4 linked regions of the Homo sapiens genome follow. The protein of the gene in region 4 interacts with the protein of the main gene of each other region in a biochemical or structural test. Each region holds a gene or a part of one and is shown on either strand. Other genes may lie near its edges.

What was found.
Region 1: the proteins of VEGFA (region 4) and HIF1A form a complex in vitro, tested with the Homo sapiens proteins (one study listed by BioGRID).
Region 2: the proteins of VEGFA (region 4) and TFAP2A form a complex in vitro, tested with the Homo sapiens proteins (one study listed by BioGRID).
Region 3: the proteins of VEGFA (region 4) and NRP1 form a complex in vitro, tested with the Homo sapiens proteins (8 studies listed by BioGRID, with this or other methods).

What each region holds. Positions count from the first base shown.
Region 1 is NC_000014.9:61,740,174-61,747,582, forward strand, and holds part of HIF1A (hypoxia-inducible factor 1-alpha), read left to right. Parts: intron 1-331; coding exon 332-454; intron 455-581; coding exon 582-1,015; intron 1,016-4,531; coding exon 4,532-4,640; intron 4,641-5,517; coding exon 5,518-5,644; intron 5,645-6,760; coding exon 6,761-6,912; 3' UTR 6,913-7,409.
Region 2 is NC_000006.12:10,411,954-10,419,913, forward strand, and holds the start of TFAP2A (transcription factor AP-2-alpha), read right to left. Parts: upstream 3,122-7,960; 5' UTR 3,039-3,121; coding exon 2,988-3,038; exon of another isoform or gene 2,728-2,987; intron 439-2,727; exon of another isoform or gene 1-438.
Region 3 is NC_000010.11:33,184,662-33,192,070, forward strand, and holds part of NRP1 (neuropilin-1 isoform a precursor), read right to left. Parts: intron 1,831-7,409; coding exon of another isoform or gene 1,828-1,830; coding exon 1,556-1,827; intron 1,064-1,555; coding exon 967-1,063; intron 1-966. UniProt on the Homo sapiens protein: Cell-surface receptor involved in the development of the cardiovascular system, in angiogenesis, in the formation of certain neuronal circuits and in organogenesis outside the nervous system. Mediates the chemorepulsant activity of semaphorins.
Region 4 is NC_000006.12:43,765,020-43,773,340, reverse strand, and holds the start of VEGFA (vascular endothelial growth factor A, long form), read right to left. Parts: upstream 3,131-8,321; 5' UTR 2,635-3,130; coding exon 2,029-2,634; intron 1,374-2,028; exon of another isoform or gene 1,240-1,373; intron 1-1,239.

The sequences.
Region 1 (7,409 bases), on a different chromosome or scaffold from region 4:
CTCCTGCCTCAGCCTCCTGAGTAGCTGGGATTACAGGCGTTTGCCACCATGCCTAGCTAATTTTTGTATTTTTAGTAGAGACGAGGTTTCACCATGTTGGCCAGGATGGTCTCGATCTCTTGACCTCATTATCCCTCCACCTTGGCTTCCCAAAGTGCTGGGATTACAGGCGTGAGCCACTGAGCCCGGCCTAGTTAAATAAAATTTGATAAACACGATGGACTTGGTTGTGTGTTTTCTGGTTTTTCTGAGATCTAGTTTGAAAATTCTGACAACTAGCAAAGTATATGGAAGCTTCTTCAGGAAATAGTAAACATATTTCTTTTTACAGCCTAATAGTCCCAGTGAATATTGTTTTTATGTGGATAGTGATATGGTCAATGAATTCAAGTTGGAATTGGTAGAAAAACTTTTTGCTGAAGACACAGAAGCAAAGAACCCATTTTCTACTCAGGTATATGAACTTATTTGTTTTATATTAAATTTCATTAATTTTTAGTCTGAAGTGACTTTGAGTTTCACTTGTTTTTTATTTATAAGGTGTGGCCATTGTAAAAACTCATGTATTTGCTGTTTTAAAGGACACAGATTTAGACTTGGAGATGTTAGCTCCCTATATCCCAATGGATGATGACTTCCAGTTACGTTCCTTCGATCAGTTGTCACCATTAGAAAGCAGTTCCGCAAGCCCTGAAAGCGCAAGTCCTCAAAGCACAGTTACAGTATTCCAGCAGACTCAAATACAAGAACCTACTGCTAATGCCACCACTACCACTGCCACCACTGATGAATTAAAAACAGTGACAAAAGACCGTATGGAAGACATTAAAATATTGATTGCATCTCCATCTCCTACCCACATACATAAAGAAACTACTAGTGCCACATCATCACCATATAGAGATACTCAAAGTCGGACAGCCTCACCAAACAGAGCAGGAAAAGGAGTCATAGAACAGACAGAAAAATCTCATCCAAGAAGCCCTAACGTGTTATCTGTCGCTTTGAGTCAAAGGTATTTATATGTAACATTCAAGTTATAGTTCTTTTATTATTTTTGAGATAAATGTATGTGATAGTACATGATTTTTAAACTTATAGCAAACTTTCTGATATATATGCCCTAACGCAAATTCTTGAGAACTCAAAAAACTTTCTAAATTAACCTCATATATTTTTTCTTTTTCTTTCTTTTTTTTTTTTTTGAGACAGAGTCTCGCTTTGTCGCCCAGGCTGGAGTGCAATGGCATGGCACCATCTCAGCTCACGGCAACCTCTGCCTCCTGGGTGCAAGAGATTCTCCTGCCTCAGCCTCCCGAGTAGCTGGGATTACAGGCATGCACCACCACGCCCGGCTGATTTTTTTGGTATTTTTCATAGAGACAGGGTTTCTCCACGTTGGTCAGGCTGGTCTCAAACTCCCGACTTCAGGTGATCCGCCTGCCTCAGCCTCCGAAAGAGCTGGGATTACAGGTGTGAGCCACCATGCCCGCTCCTATTTTTTCTAAAATAATTATAAATTCTAAAATTACCTATCTAAATGGAGGAGGGTCTTCTGACACCTTTAAAATAAAATCCAGCTCAGTACTGTAAATGTGTTTACAGAACTTGTTTAAAGTTCTTACAGTTGTTTAAATCAGACTAGTTAACTACCCTCACTACTTAGATGCTTCCATTTCTTAGAGCTCTTTTTTAAGCTTATCTGAAGAAAAGCCCTTCCAATTTAAGGGTTATTTCCAATTGCACATTCCAAATTGAGCCTTCCATCTTCAGCATTCAATATAGATATTTACAGGCCCCTCTTTTAAAATTTTATTATAGTTAACTTGTATTAAAGTTGCTTTTATTTTTCATTACGTATTTGTAGAACATTAGCTATATATATATTGCAGGCTACATAGGTTTTCAAACTGTACAACAGGAATCTAAGCATGAATTGTTACTTCTATGGAGCTAGTTCAAACAAACATATGGACATGACCCAATTTTTAAGTTATACTTTCTGTATATAATTTGTAAGGGGATTTCACATATTTTAAGTTTGAGGCTATAGCTAGAAGAAATTAAGTTTTATCTAATAAGTGTGTGGAAAAGGGAAATGATTCCTTCTCTACTATGTCTAGACTAAGCCAGATATCAATAGCAATAGGAAAGAACCACTGTCGTAGCCAGAACACATAGCTTTTTTCCCTGCCTAACATTCCCACCTTGACCTAGAGTGCTGGGAGAGGTCTTTTCCCTAAGCTTGGAAAAGACATTGGGGCTTTAGATGAACTCAGAAGTACTTTACATTACTTTATTTACTGTGTCACTTACTCACTTTTGACTCTGAGCTCCACGAGGGCAATCACAGTGTCTTGGGCATTTTAGTGATACTAATACTTAGCTCATGACCTAATGTGTAGTACTTCCTCAATAAATGGTTGTTGAGGCAGGGCGCAGTGGCTCATCACTGTAATCTCAGCACTTTGGGAGGCTGAAGCGGGTGGATCACCTGAGGCCAAGAGTTTCAGACCAGCCTGGCCAACATGGTGAAACCCGGTCTACTAAAAATGCAAAAATTAGCTGGGCGTGGTGGCACGTGCCTGTAATCCCAGCTACTTTGGGAGGTTGAGGCAGGAGAATTGCTTGAACCCTGGAGGTGGAGGCTGCAGTGAGCCGAGATCGTGCCATTGCACTCCAGCCTGGGCGAGAAGAGTGAAACTCGGTTTCAAAAAAAAAAAAAAAAAAAAAAGTTGTTGGACTGACAGATGCATGAATACAGTAGTAAAAATGACAATCACTTATAAGTTACAGTTTACTATCAGCTACAGAGGATGGGATATCCAGTTTTCTGAACAACTGTTCTCTTGTACTTGTCAAAGCCAAAGTGTAACAACACATCAAGTCACTTTAGCAATTTATTTTTGAGACGGAGTTTTGCTCTTGTTGCCCAGGCTGGAGTGCAATGGCGTGATCTCGGATCTTGGCTCACCGCAACTGCCGCCTCGCTGGTTCAAGCAAATCTCGTGCCTCAGCCTCCCGAGTAGCTGGGATTACAGGCATGCACCACCACACCCAGCTAATTTTGTATTTTTAGTAGAGACAGTGTTTCTCCAGGTTGATCAGGCTGGTCTCAAACTCCCGACCTCAGGTGATCCACCTGCCTCAGCCTCCCAAAGTGCTGGGATGACAGTTGTGAGCCACTGTGCCCAGCTAGCAACTGTTTTTAAACATTAGTTCCAATGTAGTGTACACTGAAAACTTTTATGAAAGGAATTTCAAAAATTAAGATAAACCATTAAAAACGTAATTACTAAGTACTACTACTACTACAATGATATTTACATAATAGACTGAGTTACATTTCATAAAGACAATATATCTGTATAAGAATTTTTAAACTTCCCTGTCTATATAATAGAAGTTTTAGAGAAATTTTTTAAAAACCAAAGAAAACTGCAAAATAAGATCACTTACCTATTTGGCATTCTCAACTGTCTGGAACAGCAAGGAGCCATTATGATTATGCATTTGGTTTGTGGGGTGTCTTGAAAAGTCAAAATAATGTAACAAAGCTGATGTACTTTACTCATTAGAACAATTCTTCACAATTTAATATTAATTTTAGATATACATAGTTCATGTTTGATAACCAGATCAATACTGAGTGAAAAATAGCATAGTGGGAAGAGCAGGGGAGGGGAGGTAGGGATCTGGAGACCTAGAGTGTACTTCCATATTGCAACTAGTGAGCAGTAGGACTTTGAGAAAGTTACCCAATAGGCCTCAGGGTTCTAATTTATAAAATGGGTATGATATGCCTGCCTTATCTGTCTTGGGAACTTAAGTAAGGTTAAAATGAACTAATGAACTTGAAATGTTTTATAAACTGAAAATGCTATACGAATGTGAGATTGATCTTGTATTTCAATAGTCCCAACAATATCACTGCATTGTTATATTAGGTGGAATAAAAGGACAATATTTAACTGTTTTGACTCTACAATAGTGTCAATTTAGTTGTGTTCAGCTCTATTTTATAAAATAGGGATACGCATACTGTAGAAAATTTCCTGTTAAATTAAGCTTTGACGGCCAGGTGCTCACGCCTGTAATCCCAGCACTTTGGGAGGCCAAGGTGGGCAGATCACTTGCGCTCAGGAGTTTGAGACCAGCCTGAGCAACATAGTGAAATCCTGTCTCTACAAAAATATGTATATATAAATTAGTCATAATCCCAGCTACTTGAGAGGCTGAGGTGGGAGGATCACTTGATTCCAGAGGCAGGGCTTGGTTGCAGTAAGCAGAGATCACGTCTCTGCACTCCAGCCTGGCTGACAGAGTAAGACCGTGTTTCACCAAAAAAAAAAAAAAAAAATTAAGCTTTTACTTTTAAGATGATAAACTTTAGTGATCAGGAAAGTTATCTTATGTATATTATATTCCTTAATATTGGAGAACTAAAGAATTATGTATTTTCTTTAAAAGCGCTCACTGGATATTTTTTTTAAAAACGCTATATTTTCATTTAGAATTTTTTTCTTTTCAGAACTACAGTTCCTGAGGAAGAACTAAATCCAAAGATACTAGCTTTGCAGAATGCTCAGAGAAAGCGAAAAATGGAACATGATGGTTCACTTTTTCAAGCAGTAGGAATTGTAAGTATGAGTAGTAGGTTTTGCTTTTCTAGCTAATGTGCTATTTCGTGTGTGTGTGTGTGTGTGTGTGTGTGTGTGTGTTTCCACGTTTCTTCCAAATAGTAAAGTTATATTTTCAGAAGTTATACATTGGGTTTTTTTACTCTGTATGCACTGGTTTTTAAAAATACAAATGTTTAATACATACATTCTTGGTATAAAAATTCCAAACAATTCCAGTGTATTTTGAGTTAAAAAGTGAAGTTCTCCCCTTACTCCACCCTGAATATCACCACCAATCTCATTCTCTTCCCTTTAAGTTACTTTGCCTTATTAAAAGAACTGCTATTGGCCAGGCACAGTGCCTCACGCCTGTAATCCCAGCACTTTGGGAGGCCAAGATGAGGATCACTTGAGGTCAGGAGTTCGAGACCAGCCTGGCCAACTTGGTGAAACCCTGTCTCTACTAAAAATACAAAAATTAGCCAGGCGTGTTGGTGCACAACTATAATCCCAGCCACTCTGGAGGCTGAGGCAGGAGAATAGCTTGAACCCGGGAGGTGGAGGTTGCGATGAGCTGAGATCAGGCCACTGCACTCCAGCCTGGGTAAGAGAGTGAGAGTCCATCTCATATTTAAAAAAGAACTGCTATGTTTTGGGGTAAGTCAATGGTGGTATAATACATTCTGATATTTTCAAACTAAATTAACTGGAAAGTATTTATAGACAGAATGGTCATAATGGATGACAAATAACTTAAGAAAGAATTCAAAATAATTTAGGGTAGTATTTAAGAAACTGCCTATAATGTTATTAAATTTACACCAATTTCAAGGTTTTTGGTTGTTTAAAAAAAAAATTCAACAAACTAAACTTGAAATAACTTTACTGTTTATAGGGAACATTATTACAGCAGCCAGACGATCATGCAGCTACTACATCACTTTCTTGGAAACGTGTAAAAGGATGCAAATCTAGTGAACAGAATGGAATGGAGCAAAAGACAATTATTTTAATACCCTCTGGTTAGTTTATTCTTTTTGACCTTGAACATCACAAAGACAAAATACATGAAACATTTTTATTTAGGAGCTTTAATCTAAGTGAGAATGACTTTGGTTCCTTAGCAAGATTAAAAAGTAAAGTTGTGGCTGGGCGCGGTGGCTCACACCTGTAATCCCAGCACTTTGGGAGGCCGAGGCAGCCAGATCATCTGAGGTCAGGAGTTGGAGACCAGCCTGGCCACCATGGTGAAACCCCGTCTCTACTAAAAATACAAAAATTAGCTGGGCGTGGTGGCGGGCGCCTGTAATCCCAGCTACTTGGGAGGCTGAGGCATGAGAATTGCTTGAACCCGGAAGGCAGAGGTTGCAGTGAGCCAAGATGGCACCACTGCACTCCAGCCTGGGCGACAAGGGTGAGACTCTGCCTCAAAAAAAAAAAAAAAAAAAAGTACAGTTGTATTTCATGTGATGGTCTTAATACAGAGATTAACATTTCAAGGTGGAGCTTTTCATTTTTAGTAATTTTCTTTGATTTCTCTATGTCCATGTGCTGTCAATATTGATAGAAGCTGAAATTTGTGAACTTTTATGACTTCTTTTTTTTTTTTTTTTTTTTTTGAGACAGGGTCTCGCTCTGTTGCCCAGGCCTGGAGTGCAGTGGCATGATCATAGCTCACTGCAGTCTCAAACTCCTGTGCTCAAGCTCAAGCAATCATCCTACCTCAGCCTCCTGAGTAGCTCGCACTACAGACATGCCTCACCACACCCGGTTGCTTTTTGTAGAGATGGGGTCTCACTATGTTGCCTAGGCTGGTTTCAAACTCCTGGCCTCAAGTGATCCTCCTGCCTCAGCCTGTGCTAGGATTACAGGCATCAGCTTTGATGCCCACCATATTTATGCCTTTTTCCAAATTGTTATTTCTTTGTGCCTTTATTGTATCCTGTAAACATTTCTGACACAGCAACAGTATCACTGGATTATACTTACTTTTTAACATAGTTGTGGTTTTGCCAGGTAAACTAAAAACCCTTCCAGAATTTTGCTTTATTTTCTATGATACCTAACACATTGTGGGTGTTTAATAAATATTCATTGACTAGATGAATGTATACTTAGGTATCTCTTTTGTTTTTCAGATTTAGCATGTAGACTGCTGGGGCAATCAATGGATGAAAGTGGATTACCACAGCTGACCAGTTATGATTGTGAAGTTAATGCTCCTATACAAGGCAGCAGAAACCTACTGCAGGGTGAAGAATTACTCAGAGCTTTGGATCAAGTTAACTGAGCTTTTTCTTAATTTCATTCCTTTTTTTGGACACTGGTGGCTCATTACCTAAAGCAGTCTATTTATATTTTCTACATCTAATTTTAGAAGCCTGGCTACAATACTGCACAAACTTGGTTAGTTCAATTTTGATCCCCTTTCTACTTAATTTACATTAATGCTCTTTTTTAGTATGTTCTTTAATGCTGGATCACAGACAGCTCATTTTCTCAGTTTTTTGGTATTTAAACCATTGCATTGCAGTAGCATCATTTTAAAAAATGCACCTTTTTATTTATTTATTTTTGGCTAGGGAGTTTATCCCTTTTTCGAATTATTTTTAAGAAGATGCCAATATAATTTTTGTAAGAAGGCAGTAACCTTTCATCATGATCATAGGCAGTTGAAAAATTTTTACACCTTTTTTTTCACATTTTACATAAATAATAATGCTTTGCCAGCAGTACGTGGTAGCCACAATTGCACAATATATTTTCTTAAAAAATACCAGCAGTTAC
Region 2 (7,960 bases), about 33 Mb from region 4:
CTTTTCTTAGCGGCGGCTTCGCTTGAGCTTCTAATAACCGCGCTGGGCAGCGTTCCTGGAGCCTCCTAATAGCAGATATTCATGACTATTAATATTACACGAATACTTAATAAGGGAAGAATGCCTGGAAATCGAGCGTGAAGCGGAGAGGCAACTCGCGCCGGAGCCGGCTCTCAATGCAGTCCATTGACGGGAGTCTCAGTGTAGCAAATCGGAGTGGGGAGAGGGAGCGCGAGAGACAAAAAGCGAGCGAGAGAGGGAGCGGGCGAGCGCGCGGGGGGCCGCGGCGCGGCGTCTGGCGAATCACAGGGAAGGGGCAACATTTTAAAAGGTTGCAGGGCATGCAAAAGTGAAAGAGAAAGAGGCAGAGAGGGAGACCGAAGGAGAGAGCGCAGAGAGGGAGAATGTGTCTGCGTGCGTGTGTGAGAAAGAAAGTGTGGGCGAGGGAGAGGAGCCCCGGGTGGGGAGAGGGGAGGGAGGGAAGGAGGGAGAGCCCGAGAGGAGGAAGGGAGGGAAAGAGGGAGGGAGGAAGGGAGGGAGGGAGGGGGAGGGGGCCCAGCCGGAGCGCACGGAGGGGGAGGCCGCGGGGGAGGGGGAAGGGGAGAGGAAGCGAGCGAGGACAATCAGACCTAAAAGGCTGGGGCAGACCTCGGGATGCAGCGGGGGTCGTGCGTAGCGGGTAGGAGCTGCTTGGGACCGCGTCCGGGCGCTCGTGGGGCTCTCGGCGCGGCAGGCGCTTCCCGGCCCTGTCTGGCCGCGGGCTCCGCCGCTTCGCAGCCGAGTCTGGGACTCGGGACTCGGCTGCCCGCTGCTGCGCGGCTCCTCCATGACCCGGCGCCCTGCCCGGGACCGGCCCGCTCGCTGCACTGGTCCTCTCCTCGGCCTCCTCTTGAGCTTTCCTCGGACAGGGGCACCGTGCGCTCCCCGGCCACCGTCGCTCTGCCCTCGGCTCTCTGGGGCCGGGGATTCCGGATCGGGAGCCGGGATGCGGGCCGGGGCGCGCACAGACGCTAGGCGGCCCAGCCCGGGCGCCGCTGGCACCGGCTCGCGGCTCCCGGCAAAAACCCGTCCGACTGGCTGGGCCACTCCCGCCTGACGCCCCCCCAGATGACACGACTAGCTCTCCCGGCGTGCTGCCTTTGCCAGTCTACCCGCCAGGTTGTCAGAACAAGCGGCACCTCGCCTCCTGCGTGTCCCTACAGAGCCCCGGCACAATCAGACTGCCCCAAGCCAGCTCCGAAACCCGAAATCCCCGCTCCGGCGCTTGCCCACCACGGCCAAAGTTGTGGAAACAGCTTTGACTTTATTCTCCTCTCTCTCTCATCTTTTTTTGCCTCGCTTACACACGCATTCACACTTGCCCCCACAGGATCCCTCTAGGGGTGCAAGTTCATCCCCCACCTAGCCACCCACCCCATCCAGTCGGCACCTAGAGCCGCACGGAGGTTCGGACCCCGCCCGCCGAGGGCGCCCACACCTGGAGCTGGGTTTCGGCCTCTGCGAAAGTGAAATGCCCAAGCCTCCGGCCAAAGCCCAGACCAGTACAGTATGAATTGTCCTATGAGACTGAGGGGTTCGGCTTCATTCCTACCTGCCCGCAAAGCTCGCCCCCAGCCTCGAAAACAAAGCGACTGGTCTGACGTGGGGTCCCTGCGCCCCTCCTCTAGCGCGACAGGACCCCCCCAGGGAAGAGCCAGTACCCGTGGGATGTCACCCCGTCCCCATCTACCGGGGTGGGGGGCCTGAAAGGAGAACGATTTAAAATAATCTTCAGAAAGAAAAGGGAGGAGGGAGCGGGTGACACATCGTTCACATAAACCCAATTTCTGGTTTCGAGTGAAGTCAAGATCTCCGCCCCTGCGCCTGCACACACACCTCCTGCCTAACATTCTCAGCTGCAAATGCCAAAAAAGAAAAAAAAAAAAAACAGCAAAAGTTGGGACTGCCACCTATTTATTTAGGTAATCTCCAGCCCTACACACCCCAACCCCTCTCTCGGACTCATTGCTCATTACAGTGTTGGTTGTAACCGTTCCCAGCGCCTCCTGCGGGTGGACAGGTCGCGCTAGGGTCTCCCTTGCTGCCTCAAGAAGGCGAGCTCAGGGGACTCTGCGTTTTAAAATGGGTTCCAAAGCGGCGCGCTCTGTCGGCCCAGCGGGCTTGCGGCACCAGAGGTGGTCTGCAGCCGCGCAAGGATTCCCACGGTCGTTCTGGGCTGGTGCAGAAGCTGGTGCTCCCGCACCCAGCGGCCAGCAGGCTCGGCGCAGCACATCTCCCCACCCCACCCCCACACACCCCCGTGGGGTGCGTCGATCCTGTAGCTCAGAGGGAGAAGCTACTTAGAACTTCGTGAAGCACAGAGGATCTGGAGCGAGCCCCGCAGCTGGGATCAGTGGTCTTAAGTTGAACCCGCTTACAGGAAGATGCAGCCCAGCTCACAGCGAAGTGTGGGGGGGCCGTCTCTAAAGCCGAGAAGGGAACCGCTTTAGAAGTGGGGGTGGGGGGAAGAAAGAATGAATGAATGAATGAATGAATGAATAGAAAGAAGAAGGAATATTAAAGATCGGAGAGGAAGTTCAAGAGAGAAAAGAGTTTTCTCTTTCCTTTCTGTTCCTGGTGACTTGGGCCCTCAATCTCGATGAAGATAACACGAGGAGTGCACAGGCAAGTGCCCAGTTGCCAGCAATTGCTTCAAAAGCCCATGTTCTTCTTTTCCCCCATTCTTAGGCACAGCCAAAATTGGTCAGAAAGGGGAGTAAAGTGGGACACGAGCTTCAAAGTAGGGAAACCAAAGAAGGGAGCATCCACGTCCTCTCTCTGCAGCTTCTCCCCCGCGTTCTTCGGGCGAATCCGAGGGACGGGCGCTGCGCTGGGGAAAGTTTGTCCCACCCGCGTTTCGCAGCTGGTTGCAAGGAGAGGAGGAGGAGAGGGAGGGTCAAGCTCGGAGCCTGTGACCGCACGGATGATCGAGCCGGCGTCGCGCTTACCTCGCAGTCCTCGTACTTGATATTATCCGTCAATTTCCAAAGCATTTTCATGGATCGGCGTGAACGGATATGCCCCTCTCGGTCTCGCACCCAAGTGGAGCTACTCTCTGGGTGAGCGCAAAGTGCTGGCTGCCGGCGGTGAGCGCAGGAGGAGGAGGAGGAGGGAGAGGAGGTGGAGGAGGAGAAGGAGGAGGGAGAGGAGGAGGGCAAGGAGGAGGAGGAGGAAGAGGAGGGCGAGGAGGAGGAGGAGGGCGAGGAGAAGGGCGAGGAGGAGGAGAGAAGGGAAAGAGCTCCCGTGTGCGCTCGGAGATCTCCCTCTAATGGTAGAAACTTTTCCCTTTTCCAGCTCTTTACCAACAGCCTAATCGCCTCATTAGCATATCAACAATAGTCCAATTGCTCGCCAGTACCACAATCTGCCGCCGGCCGCTCCGACACAGGTATAAAGGCCTCTCTACGCCGCGAACTTGCTTCTAGAGCGCACTCCAGCCTGCGAACTGATAAAACCTTCCTCGAGCTCCGCCGCGAGGCCCTGCCCCAACACCCCCTCTCTTACCCCAATTCCGCCACATTCCCCTTCCTTTCTTTCTCCGCTTCCTTTTCTCCAGAGATGCCTTCTGCAAAGCCCGGCACTGCTCAAGGTCCAAGCGCCACGCCTGGGGCCCAGCTTCTAGCACTTCTCCCTTAACCCTGCTACCACGATCCGAGCTGCCCTTTTGGCCCCGTGCAATTTTATTAGAAATCATTATCCCTTTCGCAATTAAACATAACCACCAAACCAAGACCGGCGAAGTCACTCCAGGATTTTTTCCCAACAAGGGATCGCCTCCGCTCGAGGCAGCCACCCCCTCGGGCCGCAGCGCCTTGGGAGTTTTATTGGCTTTGAGCTTTCCCCCAGGTTGGAGATTCTGCCAAGCGGCTCCGGTGGCTCTGCTGGGGTTTGCAATCCCTTAATTGCAGCGTGTAAAATAAAAGTTGTACCCTGAAGAGGTTACTTGACAGCTCCAGGGGTTAAACAATTTTTCTCCTGTTTGTGTGAAGCTAGGGCCAACTGACAGTTCAAATTGGTGTTCAGGCTAAGGTTTCCTGGGTGCAACGTGGACACGAATACAGAACTCCTATGGAACTGCACACCCGCTTCTGAAGTTGAGCCTAAAAACAGACGTGTGTGTGCCTGCAAGTCTAGATACCGTCTCGTGCGTGCATCAAAATAAATCACCGGGAACCGACTTTTAGCTGTGTTAATCTGCTCTAGTTTTCCCAAGATTCCCCTTTTTAATTAAAGCAGGGAGAGTTCCTTCATGATTTGGTGATGCTACTAACGCGGGCGTGCTCGCGAGGCAGAGCCCGGCTGCCGCGGAACCTGGAGGCCTGGGAGCCACCTACTCGTCCAGACTGGTCAGTCCGGGCTTTTGGACTCCTCACCGGGGCCTGCTGGGTCCTCTGGGGCTTTTATCCCTTTCGGTTTTGGGATTTTTTTTTAAGTAAGAAAAAAAAAAAAGAAAAGGACCTAATGTGACACTAGGAAATACAGAGTAATTAATTTTCCTGGCTGAGCTTCCTCGTTTGTCCTCCAAAAGAAAGTTACCTCTGTCTTTTCTCTCTGCTATATGTACAAACTCCTTAACTACACTAGGTCCCGCCTCAGAGTTGCTCTAGTAAGGACCTTTGATTCATCTGGGCTTGTTTCTCGAAAATCTCCAGGCCTCCCATATTTCCACCGGGCGTTCCTAAAAGGGGATGGGAACTGTGGCAGATTGGAGCATTCCCTCACAGGTGGAAGGAAGGCAGGAGCTGGGAGAACTCCCCATTCCACCCAAGGCTGCAGAAGGGGAATTCTCCCTCCAAACACCTCAGCAAACTCCCCAAACCTAGCAGAGTAGGCAGAAGGCTCCAAAAAGCTAGGGAGAAGCCGGAGCTGGCAAGGGGCCTTACAGACCCAGGAAGCCCTCCCCATGCTCTGGGCCTCCCTTGCCCTACCTGAACTGAGCACAATTCCTCGGCTGAACCGGGCTGGAGGCTTGGCGCCGCCCTCCGTCCAGAAAATGGTCGACTTTCCAGGGCTAGACCCTGCAGGGCTGTCCCAGCCTGTCGCCAGTGCAGTGGTTTGAAGTCAGGATCTGGGCTGCCAGGAGCACCGACACCCTCCCAGCAGCGGCCATAGCCTGAGCAGGCCAAACCCTAGGCCTGAGAGCATGGGTTTTTACACTCCGTAGACGTCGCCGCGGTGTGCTTAAGGGAACTCCAAGTTTCGCTTTCTTGCCCTCTGCGGGCTTGGAAAGGCCGCCCTCCATCCTCTGCCACCCCATTTCAACCCCCGTTTCCACCTCCCCGCTGCCCCGCGCCCAACAGATCTCCGGCTCCGCACCCGCTGGGGCTGCTAAACTGTTGTTGTATTCCCGCCGAGGGCGCCATTGAGGTGCAGATTGGGACCTGCCGGCTCTGGACTGCCGCCCCCGGTGTAGGCGCTGATGAAAGGCCCGGGCGAGCGCCAGGGTCGCCTCTGGAGCCAGCCGAGCTGCATTTATGCCAGCGTCATTACCACGCTAAGTCGCTTCATTGCATGTCAATGCTCCGGCGGGGCCAGAACCCCGGGACAGCAGCGCCAGGCCTGGGGTTGGAGGTCGGAGATCCAGGCCTGACGTGGGGGGCATAAAAAGGGCGTCGCGGGGAAGAGGGAGTATTTGTGTGAGAGACAGAGTCACAAAGAGAAAGAGACAGTGAGGGGCCAGAACGACTCTCTTTTCTCCGATTGTCAATGCCCAGTGGGAGCCGGGAGCCCAACAGGCCCAGCCCATCAGATTCGGCCCCTCCGGGCCCCAAATCCGCTCGCCCCACCCGAGATCCAGGCCTCCAGCCACTTGCCTAACTGTGAGCCCGCAAGAGCCAGGCCCGCGGCTCCCTCCTTCCTCCTCCTGCGGCAGTCTCGCGGCTTTCAAACCTTAGTCGAACCCACAGAAGGCCCAGTCCCAGGCCAAACCTACTCAACAGGCACCTTCTCACGGCCTAGGAATTCTGCAGCGAAATTCACTGGAATTTGAGGAGAAAACCCAAAGACTGCTCCGAAAGGACTCCCCCAGTCTTCAGCCTCCAAATAAGAGAGTTAGGAAGGGCCTTTAGCCCACAGGGTCAGGAAGGGAAAGGTGTGGATTCCCGGGATTTGTCTCTGGTATGGGATTTGCATCCTTAAACCACGAGGTTTGTCTAAACTTGCGGATGAAATACCATTTAGTGAGGCTTAACTAGGGAGAAGAATATAAAAGAGCTCACTCTTGATAAAAGTAATAAATCCAAGGGAAAAAAGTACAGAACGCAAAAGGCCTTTCTTTCTCCAACTCCAGGTAGCTTAGTGAAGACTGCACTTCTCAGAACTTTACTTTTAATGGCCTAAATCTGAAACAAGAGAAAGAACTCGACCAGGAGTAGCAAGGCCTCAGATTTTTGGGGGGAAGTTCAGGGCATTAGATTCGAATTGTCCCCTGGGCTTTTGGGCACACAGAATCTCACCCTCACCAGGCCTCTTGGTTGGGGCGAAAACAGGGCCTCGCGGTTCTGATGATGAAATCGGCGACAGGCAGAGCCTTTTACCGCCACCATCCTGGCCAGAGCCGCTCTGTTTCCCGAAGGGAAAGTGTCTGGAAGTTGGAAGGAGAGAGCTGGACAAATGCTTCCTTGGCCAGGGTCGGAATCCGGGGCTCAGGAAGGACAGGAGCCAAGCCTTGGATGCCTTGTGGTGTCCGCGGCCTAGCAGGGCCAAGTTCCACAGGCGTTGGTTTTGGCAAATTCACCACCCCCCTGCCTCCTCACCCACCATTCTCACACTCCCTCATCCGTAGCCCAGGCGGCAAAAACCCATTTCAGGAAGTGGAGTGAGTTGCTAGCTAAACTTCGGGCAAACTTTGTATCTCCTACAGAAACACGCTGCCTCCGCGACCCAGCCATCTGGACCCCTTTCCATTCTTCACACATCCTAGATCTCCCGAAATCTGGGGGTACCAAGAGAGACAGGTGCACCAGAACCTGTCCAACACTCAACCCTGGGGTCTAGGGCGAGGCCGCAGGCGCAGCAGGCTGAAAACCTTCACCGCCGCGCACCACAACCCCAGGCCTTCTCCCTCCCCCCTTCCGAATTAGTCATCCTCCCAAGTTTCTACTTGAGGTGGGAGGGGGGTGGGGGAAACGGCCACAGCACAAACCACAAGTGACCCACCAGGCCACCTGTGGAGCGTGCGCCGGACTTCCCCGGCGCCGGGCCCCGCGGGCTGCGCGCTTTGCGCCCAGCACCGCAGTCGCTGCCTGCGCCCGTTTTTCCTGTCTTCGCTGTCTCCTGGGAGCTCTCCTGGGCGCTGCCAGGCGCGCCTCACCTACGACTCCCCTGCCCTGGGCCACGGCGCTTCCTCTCCTCCTCCCCGCTCCGGCCCCCTCCCCTACTCCACCCCTGCCCACCTCAACCCCAGCCAAGGCAAACCCCCCGTACCTGCCAGTCCCCCATTTTGGCAAGTATGGACATCGCGGCTCTGCGCTCCTGGCGACTGGTCCCCGCCGGGCATGGGCTGGAGGGCTCGGTCGGGCCAGCTCCCTGGAATCGCTTAGGCAAATCCTCCTTTTTTACCTGCTCACCAACATCTCACCTGGTCATAAAGAGCTGGGTTGCTACCTGCCGACGCATGCGCGCTGGCCCAGGAATTCACTCCGCCAGCTGCAGTCCCAGCGCCGCACAGAGCTGACCTGGGAAGTGATGGATTTATAGCCGCGGCAATCTTGCCATCAGCTCCAGCTTTTCCCAACAGCCCCAACCCGCTTTCCCGGTCAGTCCCTGGCCCGGGAACCGAAGCTGACTGACTGCTGGATGTGCTGGGTGCGATGCGAGTGTGAGTGTGTTTTCGCACTCCAGTGGTGGGGCATCGACAAGCTCGACCCATGGCTAGCCTCCCCTCGGAACTTTCGAACTGGGGGAGTCTCCACTCCCGGGT
Region 3 (7,409 bases), on a different chromosome or scaffold from region 4:
CAGATTCCCTTTAATAGTATGAAGAAGCAAGCCTTTATTCATTGCTCCTTTCTTTTTGCCCAATTTCTTCGATGGATCCTATCAAATTATTGCCGCTTTAGGGATTATATATATTCAATATATTATATAATAAAAGCTTTGTAAGTTGCTGAAGTGACCAAAACCCCCATTACAGCCAACAGACCTCCTTTGTCTTAAATTGGCCCAATAGGCTTATCCCATTTTGTTATAATTAACATCCTATTATATAATGATGTATAACAAAAGTTTCAATGTAGCAAATGGAGCTGAAGACTAATTACTGTGCTATTACACTGCCATTAGTAATGCTATTTGTAATTATATATCAAGAACTAGGGAATATGAATTGGTTTTCTATGTCTTACATCCACCTAGTACAAGACCCATAAAGACCAACTCTGAAATACTAGGCCAAGTCTCTGAATCTCATTGAAGTCCTTTAAGTCATTTCAGATATTTTAAAAGTCAGAAACATCTACTTGTGATAAAGCAAAGAATTATGGCTTCTATGGTTCATTAACAATGCATTCTTAATTAAACTTATTCTGATCAAAGTTTTCAGAGGCCTGCTGTTTTGTTTATACACCCAGATATTTGGAATTATCCAGATGTCTGACTTTCCACTGTTCATCAAAATGTTTCGGTATGGCATCTATAGCTTGTAAGCTGGGTCTTCTTAGCTATCATCTTTGGATTCTGCATTATTTGTGGAGTTTTATAGGTATCAAGCAGCCATTATGAAGGACCTAGGGTAGGTGACGGGGCAGACACAGGTAAATTGGGCTGATTGTATGCCCTGTTGCACCAGAATACGCATTTCCTATGATGTGCCGAGAGGCCACACCGAAATTCTAGGTAGAAATGAGCAAAACAAAGACCATCATATTGGCAAGAGTCTTGCCCTGGGCAAGCACTCCATTGGTTTCTACAGCAGCTCATACTTACTTGCACAATCTTCTTGTGAAATGTGGTTATTAATACTAATGTCATCCACAGCAATCCCACCAAGGTTTCCTTTTCCGATTTCGCCCTCGAAAATCACCTAACAAAATAAGATCATTTTCACAGTATTGAAATGCTCATCTCACATGGCAGTGTTTACAAATGCTTGTTCAGCTCCAGCTACGGCACATAAATTAAATTCATCAGATTCAGCGTAACACAGACTTCACTCATCAATCCACATTAGCTGCCTGGTGATGGTATGCACCTTCTCCTTACACTCTCTTCTTATAATACAAACTTTAAAACGGGAGAAAGCAGCAAACAAAAGGAATGATACATTGTGAAAGCCCAGAAATAGATGACACGGAAGCCCTTTGTGTTCCTTCTCAGCAAATTGGTTCTATTCCTGCAATCTAGGAGACTGTGAAATCTGCTATTAAGGTGGTTATCATTGCAGCAATATCTCAGGGTTGGGAAACACTGGAAATAATTTCGGAATAATTCCCATGTCTCATTTGCACAGCCTCCAACATATCATCTCAGCATTCCTGCAGCCACTGCCCTCCCCAGCCTTGGGAAGAGGTCATACCTGATAAAGTTTCAGAGACTTGTGGAGCAAGACACGCCCTTCCTTCCAGTGGTCACCTTGGTGTCCAATGGCCATCCAGACCAGCTGATCGTACTCCTCTGGCTTCTGGTAGCGCAGTTTGACCCTGAGTGTGCCGACGTGGGACCCAGACATGTGATACCAGAAGGTCATGCAGTGGGCAGAGTTCTGGGAATAAACCACAGGGCTCACCAGGCGAGCCACTTTGCCCTTCTGATTTTCGTCAGCTTGGGAATAGATGAAGTTGCCATCTCCTGCTGTGACAAAGAACTGTGTTAGGGAGAGTGGCCAGGATTACCACACTTTTATCTCTCTTCTTTCAAGTCTCACTAATCAAAAGCTTCCTGCGCTGAGCACCAAGAACCCAAATACGTAGTGGAAAGGGATAAGTGTGCACACTTGGGGACCTCATGGGCACCTAAGGCCCTGCTCTCAGCTCTTGCAAAATGGACATTTGATTAGGGGAAGGCTGAGTGGCACTAATTAGGATACTACTTATAATGGAATGCATTTTCATATGGACACATGCTATGCCTCAAGCTGGCATTTGCACCATCACAAGCAAACTGAAAGCAAAGTCTGTGCATAGACTGGACTGAAAACTCCTGGCTCTTAGAGAAACCTTATTTATTTATTTATTTATTATGTTAGACACTCCTGTTGCCCAGGTTGGGATGCAGTGGTGTGATCATAGCTCATTGCAGCCTCAAACTCCTTGGTTCAAGTGATCATCCTGCCTCAGCATTCTGAGTAGCTATGACTACGGGCCCATGCCACCATGCTCAGCTAGTTCTTAAAAAGATTAATTTTTTTTTTTAAGTAGAGATAGAATCTTGCTATGTTGCCCAGGCTAGTCTCAAACTCCTGGCCTCAAGCAATCCTCCCACCTTGGCCTCCCAAAATGCTGGGATTACAGGCATGATCCACCACGCTGGGCCCAAGAAACCCTGTTTTTATGCAACTTTAAGATCACACTGCGGCACCCATGTGAACACATGCATTAAATGAAATCATTGAGATGTATTTTTATTTATCATTTGAGCAGCAGGACTTCTGATTAATGAAATTTCTGTCACTATGACTGCTTGATAATCATAAACCTGTAGTTTTTCCTAATAATGTAGTAATCTTTTTTTTTATACTTTTCAAGTTCAGATTATTTTTCCCGTAGTTTGTTTTCATGGTTTTCGAATTCCTTAAACACACCTGAGAGCTTGAATCTCTACTGTGAGCCCTGCTTCTATTTGATGTGGGCTTCTGGCTCAAGGAGAGGCAAGGTTGCCTTGTTGAGGTTCATTAGAACGTGCCATTTTGGCAACTTAGACACTTGCTGAACTGCGAGGACTTTCTCTTGGCTTCGCTTTTAATGACCCCCACTGGGAACATTTCCTCCTGCCACCACCTGGTCAACACAGCTCATGTTTCACTGTTGGCTCTGCAAATAGAAATCATCTTCTCTAACACCTCACCTGATTAAGTGTGAATCTGCTGCTCGGGCCTCAGTGGGCAGCAAGAGGTTGTGTTTGTTGCCCAAGAGACTTGTGTGTTTGCAAGGTGCTTTCTCACTGTGCACACGTGGGCACATACTCCTTTCCGCTTGCCTGTGTCAACAGTGTCCAGGTGGATGTGGACGTGTTCATGGGCAGCTTCCTTTCCTTACCTGGTTGCTTATGTGAGAGCCCGCCCTTCTTCAAACCAACGGGTGGAATCATAAAGGAAGGGTGTTCACAAATGGCAGCTCTAGCAGTAGGTTTGATACTGCAGGATGAATGTCCCTCTCGCTCTCTGACCTTGCAGGTGTCCTCTGTGACTGAGCTGATCCATTCACACTTAGGATTTGTTTTGCCCACTAATTTATCAAGATGTGATTACTTGTCTGTGGGATGGTGCCATTTCACTGTGATGAATCCACCACGATGGGAAAAAAATACACCCATCGTGCCTCTGTCCCCTCAATCTTACGGAAAAAAGACTGAAATTGGCAATGCTGCTGCCATGTCTTAATCCCACTTATTGAGCTCATTGCTCAAAGTTTATTGAGGCTAGTCAGAGAATGGGTGTTAGAAAGAAGGAGAGAAGTGGACGTAGGTAGAGGGATGCTCTCCCATAGGACATCCTCACTCAACTGCACCATAATCACTTCCCATCCACAACTAGACAGTAAGTTCCTCAAGCACAGAGACCCCCTCCTTCATACCTGTATTTCCAGTGCCCAACACAGCACCTGCCATGTAACAGGGCTTCTCAAATGATGCCTGTTCAGTGCAGTAGGAGAGATGCCAGATTTCAAGAATCCTCTGCCTGAGGAAGTTCTTATGGTCCCTGCCTTCTCACACTGTGGTCTTTAAATATGCTCGTGTGGCCGGGCGCGGTGGTCCACGCCTGTAATCCCAGCACTTTGGGAAGCCGAGGTGGCTGAATCACCTGAGGTCAGGAGTCCGAGACCAGCCTGGCCAACATGACAAAACCATGTCTCTACCAAAAATACAAAAATTAGCCGGGCGTGGTGGCGGGCATCTGTAGTAGCTCCTACATAGCTGTAGTCCTAAGTAGCTGGGACTACAGCTACTTAGGAGGCTGAGACAGGAGAATCGCTTGAACCTGGGAGGTGGAGGATGCAGTGAGCCAAGATCACACCACTGCACTCCAACCTAGGCAACAGAGACCCTGTCTTAAATATATATATATATATATATATATATAAATTAAAACTGCTCGTGTTGCTCCTCTGCTTAGAATTCTTCAGAGGCTGCTCACTGCCTGCAGCCTATCCACACTTCTTCACAAAGAGGGAGCGCTGGCAGCCCCTCCAATGGACCTTTTATCCACCCCCATCCTGTTTTCCTCCTGGTCACTGCATCACCAACTTAAGGTATAGTATAAAGAACCAGCAGTGTCCTGCCAAACACACACACACACACACTCACTCACAATAAACACCCGATCCACAAACTTCTGCTCTACTCAGTGAAAATGGAAGGAATCCAATTTCATCAATTTCCTTGTCAATCTCATTAGGCAAGGAGGTAGTTCCCAAAGTCATGCACACTCTGCCTCTATCTAACTGCTTCCCATACAAAAACCTGTGCAAAGCACACCAAACATGAGCCAGTAAAATAAGCCTAGCTCAGCCGGTGTCTGAGACAGGGCTGCTTTCCTTGACCCCTCTTCCGTCATCTTTTACATGGTCCATTGTCACTGGCCTCTGCCATTGGAAGCCCTCACTGAACTGCACTGTGGTTGCTTCCCAACCATGATCAGACTGCGAGTTCCTCAAGCGTAGGGACCTCTTCCTTTACACGTGTATTTCCAGTGCCCAAGTCAGCATCTGCCCTGTAACAGAGCTTCTCAAATACCACTTGTTCACTGAACCAGGGAGAGATGCCAGACTTCAGGAATCCTCTGAAAGGAGGTACCTAGTTCCATTCTTTGAGGTCAAATGCAGAAAACCAAGCAAATGGGATGCCTTTCGATAAGCAGCAGGATATTTTACCTAGCTAGTGTTCATTTTCTTTTTAAACAACCCAATGTCTGGCTTGCAAAGTTTCACCAAATAATATTATAAAAAAAGCACCATCTACTCTCTAATGTCAGTCTATGCGCGGGAGCTTCGTGAAGGGCTCTTTTCATCTGGATCTTTTTCCCGTTAACAAGTAGTTCCTGCCTTTCAGATGTCGGGCTCACCCATCTCTCTACACAAATGATTGTGTTTCTAGAACTGCAGGGGCTCTTTCTAGTCGGAGCTGACCTGGCACAACTGCCAAGTAAATCTGGGTGGCTGAGAGAACAAAAGAGTCAAACCCTTCTGAAGGAATCGCACTTCTCAGCTGTTAATCTACGACAAGCTCTCCTTCTCTGATACTCTAACACATAAAGCACTGATATTTTCCCTTTCAAGGGTTTTATCACAGTTCTGGGTCAGGAACTCTGTCTTCATTTTCTCAATTAGCACTTTACTTCTGCAAGCCTTTTAGCTTTTGTCTCTGGCTAACATAGCTTTTAACCTCCTTTGAATGTCAGATCCTACTGAGCCATTTTGCTTCACTTTGCATCAATTTTTCCACCATTACTGCCTTCATTTTGGCTAATTGCATTTAGTTAATTTGATGCCATTTATATGTACAGTGCCATTTACAGTCAAAGTATTTTAAGTTTTCTAAAACTGCCTGTCTTAAGATTCAATTGAAAGTGTCTCAGATTTGAAGGAGTCCAATTTTATCCAATTTCCTTGTCATTCTCATTAGGCAAGGAGGTGGCTGTGGTGGAAGGAGGCCTATTCAACCTATTTAATGGTTATATTCACTGGGAGAAAAGTGAACCACAAAATGGGAAAGGCATGAAGTACCCTTGGCCCAGCCTTCAGTCCACTGACTCACTCACCCAAAGAGCCAAGATGGGGAGAATTTAATGAGATTTCCTAGCATCAGCAAATGCCCCCCTGGGGTACCTTTTGGGAAGCCACTACTTGAGCAAGCAGTGCTCTGTAAGTATTTCTGAGTGGGTGCAGAAGTTCATGGATTGGGCGTTTGTTGTGAGTGTGTATATGTGTGTGTGTGTATGTGTGTGTGTGTGCATGTGTGTTGGGCCAGACATGGCTGGTTATTTCTTTATTTTTAATTTTTATTTTTTTCTCTTTAGAGACAGGTTCTAATTCTGTCACCCAGGCTGGAGTGCAATGGTGTGATCATAGGTCACTGCAGCCTTGAACTCCTAGGCTCAAAGGATCCTAAAACAGACTCTGAGTAGCTGGGACTACAAGTGTGCGCCCTTATGCCTGGCTGATTTTAAAAAAAAAATTTATTTTGTAGTGTCAGTATCTTGCTATGTTGCCCAGGCTGGTCTCTAACTCTCTAACTCAACTGATTCTCCTGTTCTGGCCTCCCAAAGTGCTGGGATTACAGGTGTGAGCCACCACGTCCAGTCTGCTGGTCCTTTATACTGTACTTCAAGTTGGGCAGTGAAATGACTAGGTGGGTAGCAGGAAGGGGGCAGATAATAGAGTTCACTGGAGAAGCTGCCAGCTTTTTCTGTCCCCCAACCCATTCCTCCCCCACCAATTAATCTTAGGAAGAAAGTAAGGCAGGAGGTGGTGGGAGGGTTGTGATCTAGGGCATGGTGAGGTTTCTACCTGCTCAAAGGAAATACACTACACTTTCAATCTTTCCCCAGTGAATAAGAATTCCACACCGTCTTTCCCCACCTCCCCTTCAAGGGTCGGGAGAGAGCAAGCATTGTGAATTGTTTCTTTAGTTGTAAAATAAACGAGGGGACATAATATATGCTTGGACTTGTTTGAAAATAATTCAGAGTCAGGGATGACAGACATAAATTAAGTTTCCTATGATCTGATAATTGTTGAAGCAGGGTCGTGCACATAGAGAATTCATTCTACTATTTCTTTTCCATTTGTGAATATGTTTGAAATTGCCCAAAATAAGAAGTTCAGAAAAAGTATAAGATGAGGCTAGTTGCGGTGCCTCACACCTATAATCCCAGCACTTTGGGAAGCTGAGGTGGGTGGATCACAAGGTCAGGAGTTCGAGACCAGCCCGGCCAATGTGGTGAAATCCCGTCTCTACTAAAAATACAAAAAATTAGCTGGGTGTGGTGGTGTATGCCTGTAATCCCAGGTACTTGGGAGGCTGAGGCAAGAGAATCGTGTGAAGCCAGGAGGCGGAGGTTGCAGTGAGTGGAGCTAGTGCCACTGCATTCCAGCCCGGGCAACAGTGTGAGACTCCATTTCAAAAAAAAAAAAAAAAAAAAAAAGGATAAGATGAATGCTAATTCATAGATCCTTGCCCAATTTGCTGTTTTCAAGGAGGCCAATCAGTGGCCA
Region 4 (8,321 bases):
AACTCCCCTCCCGCCCAGCACTCGCAGAGCAGAGGGGCACTCTAGCCTACGGAACACCAGACCCTGCTAGGGGAGAGTCCCACTGTCCATCTTTCTTTCCCTCTCCTTCCCACACACCCCAAATGCACCCCACTCAGGTACCCCAGCCCTGCTCCCAGAGACAGCCAAGGTCACAGGAAGCCCCTCTCAAGAGAAAACAACAGTTACCAGGCTTCCAGCTGGACAGCTTACCACTGCGGCTCCTGCAGGGACCCCCTGGATTCTGCACCTCAGCCCCCTCACCCATTCCCATGACACCCCCTGCCTTCCCCCTGACAATATTCTCCCGGGACCCTCCACTCCTCCTGGGCCCCAAGGAGGAAAGGGGACGGAAATTTCATACCCCTTCCAAGGCCAGGGAGCACAGGAGGGGCGGTTCTAGGCAGGCAGGGGCCAGGTGTCCTTCTCTGGGGGCCTCTGAAGGTCACACTGTGGCCAGGCAGCCACTCCTCCCCCTCCTCCCTACTTGGAGGCCTGTAGCCAAGGCCTTTGTGCCAGGGTCTGAGGAACTTGCGGTGTTAGCAGCGACCCCTGTCCATGGCTTTCCTCTTGCCTCCTCTCCAAGGGAATTCTGGCTGAGGGAAGGCGTCAGAGAGGAGCGGAAAGGGACCCTTTAGAGTCCCTTTCAGAAGCAAGTTGGGTGGGCAGGTTTGGAGTTCCAAAAAAACACCTGCTCCAGGGCTGCCTTTCACCAGGACAAAGTGTGTGCAAGGCTGGCAGGAGCTCCTTTCCAGGGTTCAGGAAGGACTATTCCCATGCTGCCCGTGTCACAGCAAATTTCAAGCCATTTCTCCAAAAGGGTAAAGTGGGGCAATGACTCTTCAAATCCTCCCTTGACCCACCCCCACGAGAGCTAAAGCACAGCTCACTCGGAACTGTTGGCGAGGGAAGGGAAGCACACTGTCACCAAGTCGGGACTTTCGGTGGAATGTGACAAAGCGCCCAGTGGGCTCCCGCGCCACGACTTCTGACAGTGATCATCCTTTCCCTGGACTCTGGGGCCAGAAAGGGGTTAGATGGATCTTCTCCGCAGAGAGAAATGAAAATAAGCGGGGTGACAGGGGCTTCTCTCCAGGCTAAAAAGGAAATGGGTGAAGAGAAGGGGCGTCAGGAAATTCCTCCTAGCACTGGGCAGAGGTAGGGTCTGGAGACAGTAGGAAGGGGTAGGGATGGTTCTCTGGATCCCCGGGCTGGGGCTACCTCGAGAGGTCACCTTCCCGCGGAGGGCTGGCGGGGGGAGGGGTGCCGCTCGCCACTCTGGGCTCCCCATTCGGGCAGCCGAGGCTCCGGGAACACGCGGCCGGCCAGGCCCGGGCTGATGTAATCGGCTCCGCGCCGCGCGCACCCGGCCGGGCGGGGGAGGGCGGGCACCGAGCGGGACGCGAGCGGGGACGGGCGGGGTTGGCGCGGCGCAGGTGGCCCAGCAGGGAGGGGGGGTCCCCGCAGCAATCCACCCCAAAACTTTTCCCAAACTCGCGGCGAGGGCTGAAGAGACCGAGTGGCAGTGACAGCAAGCCCCCTCTCCCTCCTGCGCCCTGCCCCCTCCACGCTCTCTGCCCTCCCGCGGTCCAAGGTCCGAGCACCCCCTGCCCACTGGTCTCTGGCTCCCGCCCCCGCTGCTCAGACTTCCAGTTCGTCCGGGACCAGCGGCCGGGAGCAAACTTCAGCCGGCAGCGGCAACGCAAGCCCAGCCCCCTCGGCCTCCTCCTCCGGCTCCCGCCCTCGGCTGGTCGGCCCAGATCGTACGTGCGGTGACTCCGGTGGGTGGGCAGGGCCCGCGTGGGCGGTGAGCCTCTCTCCGGGTACCCTCCCACCTAGCGCGCGCGCCCCCTCCCCCTGCACCTAAGACGACAGAGGGGGACGCCGCACGCCTGGTGCCCATGGACCCGCGTGGGGCACGGAGCCCCCACGCGCGCGCTCGCACGCACGTCCCCAGCCGGGAGAGGCGCTCGCAGCGGCCCGCGGCGCCAGCAGGGCACGACCGCTTACCTTGGCATGGTGGAGGTAGAGCAGCAAGGCAAGGCTCCAATGCACCCAAGACAGCAGAAAGTTCATGGTTTCGGAGGCCCGACCGGGGCCGGCGCGGCTCGCGCTCCCTCTCCGGCTCGGGCTGTGGGGCGGCCCGCTCTCCTCGGCGCCTCGGCGAGCTACTCTTCCTCCCCGGCCCGAGGCCCGGGCCAGGGCCTGGGGAGCGCGCGCGGCTGGAGCACTGTCTGCGCACACCGCCGCCTCACCCGTCCATGAGCCCGGCTTCCGAGCGCCGAGTCGCCACTGCGGCCCCCTCTCCTCTTCCTTCTCTTCTTCCTCCTCCCCCTCCTCCGGCTGCGGCTCCTCCCGGCCCGAGCTAGCACTTCTCGCGGCTCCGCTCGGCTCGGCTTCCCCCGCGCGGACCACGGCTCCTCCGAAGCGAGAACAGCCCAGAAGTTGGACGAAAAGTTTCAGTGCGACGCCGCGAGCCCCGACCCCCTCCACCCCGCCTCCGGGCGCGGGCTCCGGCCCCTGCCCGCGGCTCGCCGCCGCGTCCACTGTCCGCCGCCGGCCGGGGAGGAGGTGGTAGCTGGGGCTGGGGGCGGTGTCTGTCTGTCTGTCCGTCAGCGCGACTGGTCAGCTGCGGGATCCCAAGGGGGAGGGCTCACGCCGCGCTCCGGCGGTCACCCCCAAAAGCAGGTCACTCACTTTGCCCCTGTCGCTTTCGCTGCTCGCACGCCCGCGCGCTCTCTCTGACCCCGTCTCTCTCTTCCTCGACTTCTCTCTGGAGCTCTTGCTACCTCTTTCCTCTTTCTGCTGGTTTCCAAAATCCACAGTGATTTGGGGAAGTAGAGCAATCTCCCCAAGCCGTCGGCCCGATTCAAGTGGGGAATGGCAAGCAAAAATAAATTAAAACGAGAAACAATACAGTTTTAAAAAAAAATGTTTAAGAAAAAAGAAGAGGGATAAAACCCGGATCAATGAATATCAAATTCCAGCACCGAGCGCCCTGGCCGGTGAGTCCGCTGACCGGTCCACCTAACCGCTGCGCCTCCCGACAGAGCGCTGGTGCTAGCCCCCAGCGCCACGACCTCCGAGCTACCCGGCTGCCCCAAGCCTCCGCGATCCTCCCCGCTACCAGCCGACTTTTAAAAAAAAAAGGGGGGGGCGCATGGCTCCGCCCCGCCGGGACCCCGCCCCCGGCCCGCCCCGGGGGGCGGGGACAGGCGAGCCTCAGCCCTTCCACACGCGGCTCGGGCCCGGGCTCTGCGGACGCTCAGTGAAGCCTGGCCCGCAGCCCGCCGCAATGAAGGGGAAGCTCGACCCCCACCAAGGTTCACAGCCTGAAAATTACCCATCCGCCCCCGGAAACTCTGTCCAGAGACACGCGCCCGCGGGGCATTGGCGAGGAGGGAGCAGGAAAGTGAGGTTACGTGCGGACAGGGCCTGAGAGCCGTTCCCTCTTTGCTAGGAATATTGAAGGGGGCAGGGGAAGGCGGAGAGCCGGACAGGGACGGGTGGGGAGAGGGACACACAGATCTATTGGAATCCTGGAGTGACCCCTGGCCTTCTCCCCGCTCCAACGCCCTCAACCCCACACGCACACACTCACTCACCCACACAGACACACACGTCCTCACTCTCGAAGACGCTGCTCGCTCCATTCACCCAGCTTCCCTGTGGTGGCCGAGCGCCCCCTAGTGACTGCCGTCTGCACACCCCGGCTCTGGCTAAAGAGGGAATGGGCTTTGGAAAGGGGGTGGGGGGAGTTTGCTCCTGGACCCCCTATTTCTGACCTCCCAAACAGCTACATATTTGGGACTGGAGTTGCTTCATGTACAGAGAGCCCAGGGCTGGGCACAGGGGCCACAGTGTGTCCCTCTGACAATGTGCCATCTGGAGCCCTCATCTGGCCTGCAGACATCAAAGTGAGCGGCAGCCAACAGGCTGGAGTGACTGGGGTCCTTTGGGAAGTGTCCAGGGATGCTTCCCAGGGGAGAAGAATTTGGCACCAAGTTTGTGGAGCTGAGAACGGGAAGCTGTGTGGTTCCGGGGTTAGTCAGTGACTGGGAGGGAAGAGGACCTGTTGGAGCCCACGTATGCACTGTGGAGTCTGGCAAAACCCAAAGGGGGAGGCAGCTGGGCAGACAGAGGCCCTTGTTCCTGCTGCCCCCCCAACCCCAGATGTTGCCAGGGAACTGAGGCCAGGGGGCTGGTGGGGGCGGGTGGAGGCCAGGGCCTGCGTGATGATTCAAACCTACCCGCCAGCACTAAGGAACGTCTGTAGGCCAGCTGCCCAGAGCTCCCACCAGGCCAGGGGCCAAGGCTTCTATCAGCCCAAGCCCAGACTCATAGCTCATCTTCTGAATAGAAATGGGGGTTTCGTCTCAGCTCCCCCATTCCCTCAGGATCCCTTGGCTACTTCTCCAGGCTCACAGCTTCTCCCCTATCCTTCCCCCAGTCCCCTCCCTTACCTCCAAGCCCCCTTTTCCTCCAACTCTCCACATCTTCCCTAAGTGCTCCCAAAGGCCCCATCCCATTCTTGCATATAGGAAGCAGCTTGGAAAAATTCCTAGCTGGTTTCTGACCTGGCTATTTCCAGGCTGCCCCAGGGAACAAAGTTGGGGCTCTGAGGCCTGTGGGAAGAGTGGGACCAGTCAGTCTGATTATCCACCCAGATCTTGCCAGGGTCTGGCCTACAGCTGGCATAGCCTCTGTGGAGGCATGGACTGAGAATGGGAATGCAGCAATTTCCCTCAATTTAACCAAAACGCTCCAGGGAGCTTACCTAGTCAGCCCCATCCTCAGCACATGTTGCTGTGGTTTGGTGGAGGTGCTAGGTTACCTCCCCAGTACCCCCAGTTCCATCGGTATGGTGTCCTAAGGCCCTTATGAGGAAAAGGGCTGGCTCCCACCCACCCCAACCCTCCCTTTCCATCATTCGTGCACTAGTCCTGTCTCCACCACTTGGCAGGCTCCCCAGCAGCAGGGACAAGGTCTTTGTACAGTTAGTAAATGTTTATTTCCTGGCTCAGGGCCCCCTCCCAGGCAGGCCTCCTCACCTGGGCTCCATGCTCTAGGCTGATGAACGGGATATGGAAGGGAAGCCACTAACTTTCCTCCTTGTGCGCCTCTAGCACCCCAGGAGCACAAGCTGTAGACATCTTGGGGCAGGATGGAGGCTCTGAGCCCTAAGGGCTCATTCTGGCCCCCTCCCTTGCATCCCTTCTCAACTCGGCCTTCTTCAGCCCCTAAAAGAGCCAACAGACCTGAAAGAGCAGGTCTTAGTAAAAAACAAATAAACAAATCTGAAGCTAAGAGGAGGCTGGAGGGGTTCCAAGGAGGGATAGCCATCACCAGTCACTCCGTGGCCCCAGGCACCCCCCACCCCCATAAGCCAACTGTCCTCCATGGTGGTACCCAGCAAGGTGTGTTACAACAACCTGTTTGTGTTTCCCTCTGGGGCTTTGCCCAGGGATCCAGGGGAGTGAGGGCACAGAATTCCTTTTATATAAGGCTAGGATTACAACCTGGCCTAGGGGTTTTTGAGCTACCTTCATTAGGGCGAGAAAGTATGGCCCACCTCCCCCCTTCATTGTGGAGATATAACCTGGCTGTGACCTGGAGGGGTTAACTCTGGATCCCATGCCCCAGTGTGTTGTCACCGGCATTTACAACAATGTACTCTTAAGGACTCAGCCAGTGCCCACATTGTCACCAAATTAAAAGCTCAAGTCACCTAGTCACCTGAGCTTTCAAAAAAGGGGAAAAAGCACAAAACAACAATCACAAGACCACATGTATCTCTGTGGCATCTTCCCTTCCATGGGCTTAGCCCCCTGAACAACTTGACTTCACTTATCCTCACCTCCCTCCCCAGGCTGCTTGCTGCAGGGGAAGGGGCGTCAGAGCAGACTGTCTCCCCAAAGAATCCTCCGAAGGCCCAGAGAGGGCACAAAGGGGCCCAGGGTCACCTAGCAGATTGGGGGAAGGGGCAGTGAAGCAGAGAGCAGCCCACACAGAGGTCATGCTGGCTCCCAGTTGAGGGGCAAACTCGGCCCCGCTTGGAGGGCCTCACCTTGGGAGCGCAGTGGCCACTCCCCACAGTCTGTGGCTCTGAAGGCAGTTCAGAAGGAGCCAAGGAGGAAGGGGAAGGTGTTCCAGGTGAGGGGGAAGGGGAGAAAGGGGTGGGGGTGGAGAAAAGTGCGAAAGGCAGCCAGGAGCCAGCGGCGGCCCCAGACAAAGAAAGTAGTGATTGGGCCAAGGCACAATAGTTGTACTTTGTCCTGATGTCCTGTCACCTCCAATATTCAGGGAAACTCTCGCCTGTGTGGGTGTGGGTGGTTAATCTAGAAGCCGGTGGATGAAGGGACAAAATCTCTCCTGAGATTGGAAAGAAGGTGAGGAGAGAGTCACTGGGTCTTGCTGTTTTCCACACATTTCTCCAAGTGGCTTCACTGCAATGGAAGGAGGTCTTGTCCTTCACTCCATCCCCTGACCCCCAGGTGACTAGCAGGACACTGATCTGCAGGAAGGGCAGGATACAAACCTGGTGAATTGAAGGAGAGAGAATTGGGTTGGTTCCCCTCAATTCCCTGACCCTGACTGTGGGTCAATCTCTGTCTCTCTCTCTCTCTCTCTCTCCCCGCCTAGGTCTTTGCAACAAAGCATTAAAAAGACAAAGAGAAAGCAAAGGAAAGGGCCTCTTTGGTCCAGTGCCAATGTCCTAGCCCCATGTGGATCTGGAGGTTTGACTTGAGGTAATGATAAGTAATGATGGCCAACTGATAAAAAGATTGGAGCAGAGGAAGCCAAGGAGGGTAACTCTCCCAAGAGGATCCAGTCAGGAAAGGGGGAAGGAATGGGGAAGAGGACCTAGCTGGAGAGAGGGCAGGGCAGAGTCACTGTCTGGGGAAGCTCACCTACCCACACCACCCCTAGGCCCATCAGCCTCTGCCTCTCCTTCATGGGCCCCAGTCTAATCCCCTGACACTAAGCTGTCCCTGATGAATTGCATCTCCCCAACACCCCCAGGCATGCTCACCTTCTGACACTCCAATCTCTGCTATTCCTCCAAGTCTGACCCCAAAACATGCCCATTTCTGCCCCTGTTCACATCCTCCACCCCTACCCTGTCTTGGAGGGAGTCCTTCTGCTGGGAAGAAGGTATGGCATGTGGTGGCAACTAAGGTCCCAAAGCTGTATCTGCCCTTTTGACCTGGGCCTTGCCTGAGAGCTGAGCTAAGCTCCAATTTGTGAATATTTGTAGGGACTACCAGGCACCAGGCTCCATGCTGATTTTATAGGAGGTACAGGGACATCTAGGTAGGGCAGTGGAAAGTACAGGGACTTTGGATTCAAATGGACCCAAGTCACATTCCTGGCTCTGCCACTCACTGTGTGGCCTTAGGTTATTCAACCTCTCTGAGCCACAGCTCCCCTCATCAAAAATAGGAGTAAAAATCCCTGCCTTAGAGAGTTGCTGCACACAGACAAATGTGCACACAGCTGCCCCAGAAAGCAAGATGAGAAAGAGGCCCTGGGGGAGGCACAAGTGTTGTGAAGGTATGGAAGCAAAGAGCCAGACTGGCTAGAATGGGCATCTGGAAGGGCTTCCTGCAGGAGGTGGCTTGGGACATGTATTCCACAAGCAATTATTAAACTCAGCTTGTGATCTCTGCTTTGTGTTGCACCCTGGGACTACAACAGTGTCAGTGGGGGCTTCCTGTCTGGAGGTAAACCAAAGAGTAAACCAAAAATGGGAATTCTCTGAGGAGCATTTAATTGCTGGGAGTAGGGGAAGGCTTCCTGGAGATGATACTTGAGTTGGGTCTTTTTTTTTTTTTTTTTTTTTTGAGATAGGGTCTCACTCTGTCGCCCAGACTGGAGTGCAGTGGCGCCATGTCGGCTCACTGCAACCCCTGCCTCCCAGGTTCGAGCAATTCTCCTGCCTCAGCCTCCGGAGTAGCTGGGACTGCAGGTGCCTGCCACCACACCTGGCTAATTTTTGTGTTTTTAGTAGAGATGGTGTTTCACCATGTTGCCCAGGCTGGTCTCGAACTCCTGACCTCAAGTGATCGGCCCACCTCTGCCTCCCAGAGTGCTGGGATTACAGGCGTGAGCCACCGTGCCTGGCCTTGAGTTGGGTCTTGATGGAAGAGCAGGAGTTTAGCAAACCAAGTGGACTGCGCAAAGAGAACAAGCAAGGGAAGATACCCTGGAAGGTTCTGATGGCTCACACTGAGCCCTCCCAGTACTCCTCTGAGTGATAGAGACTTTGAGGCTAGGCAGGGCAAGGGATTAGGGCGTCTTCA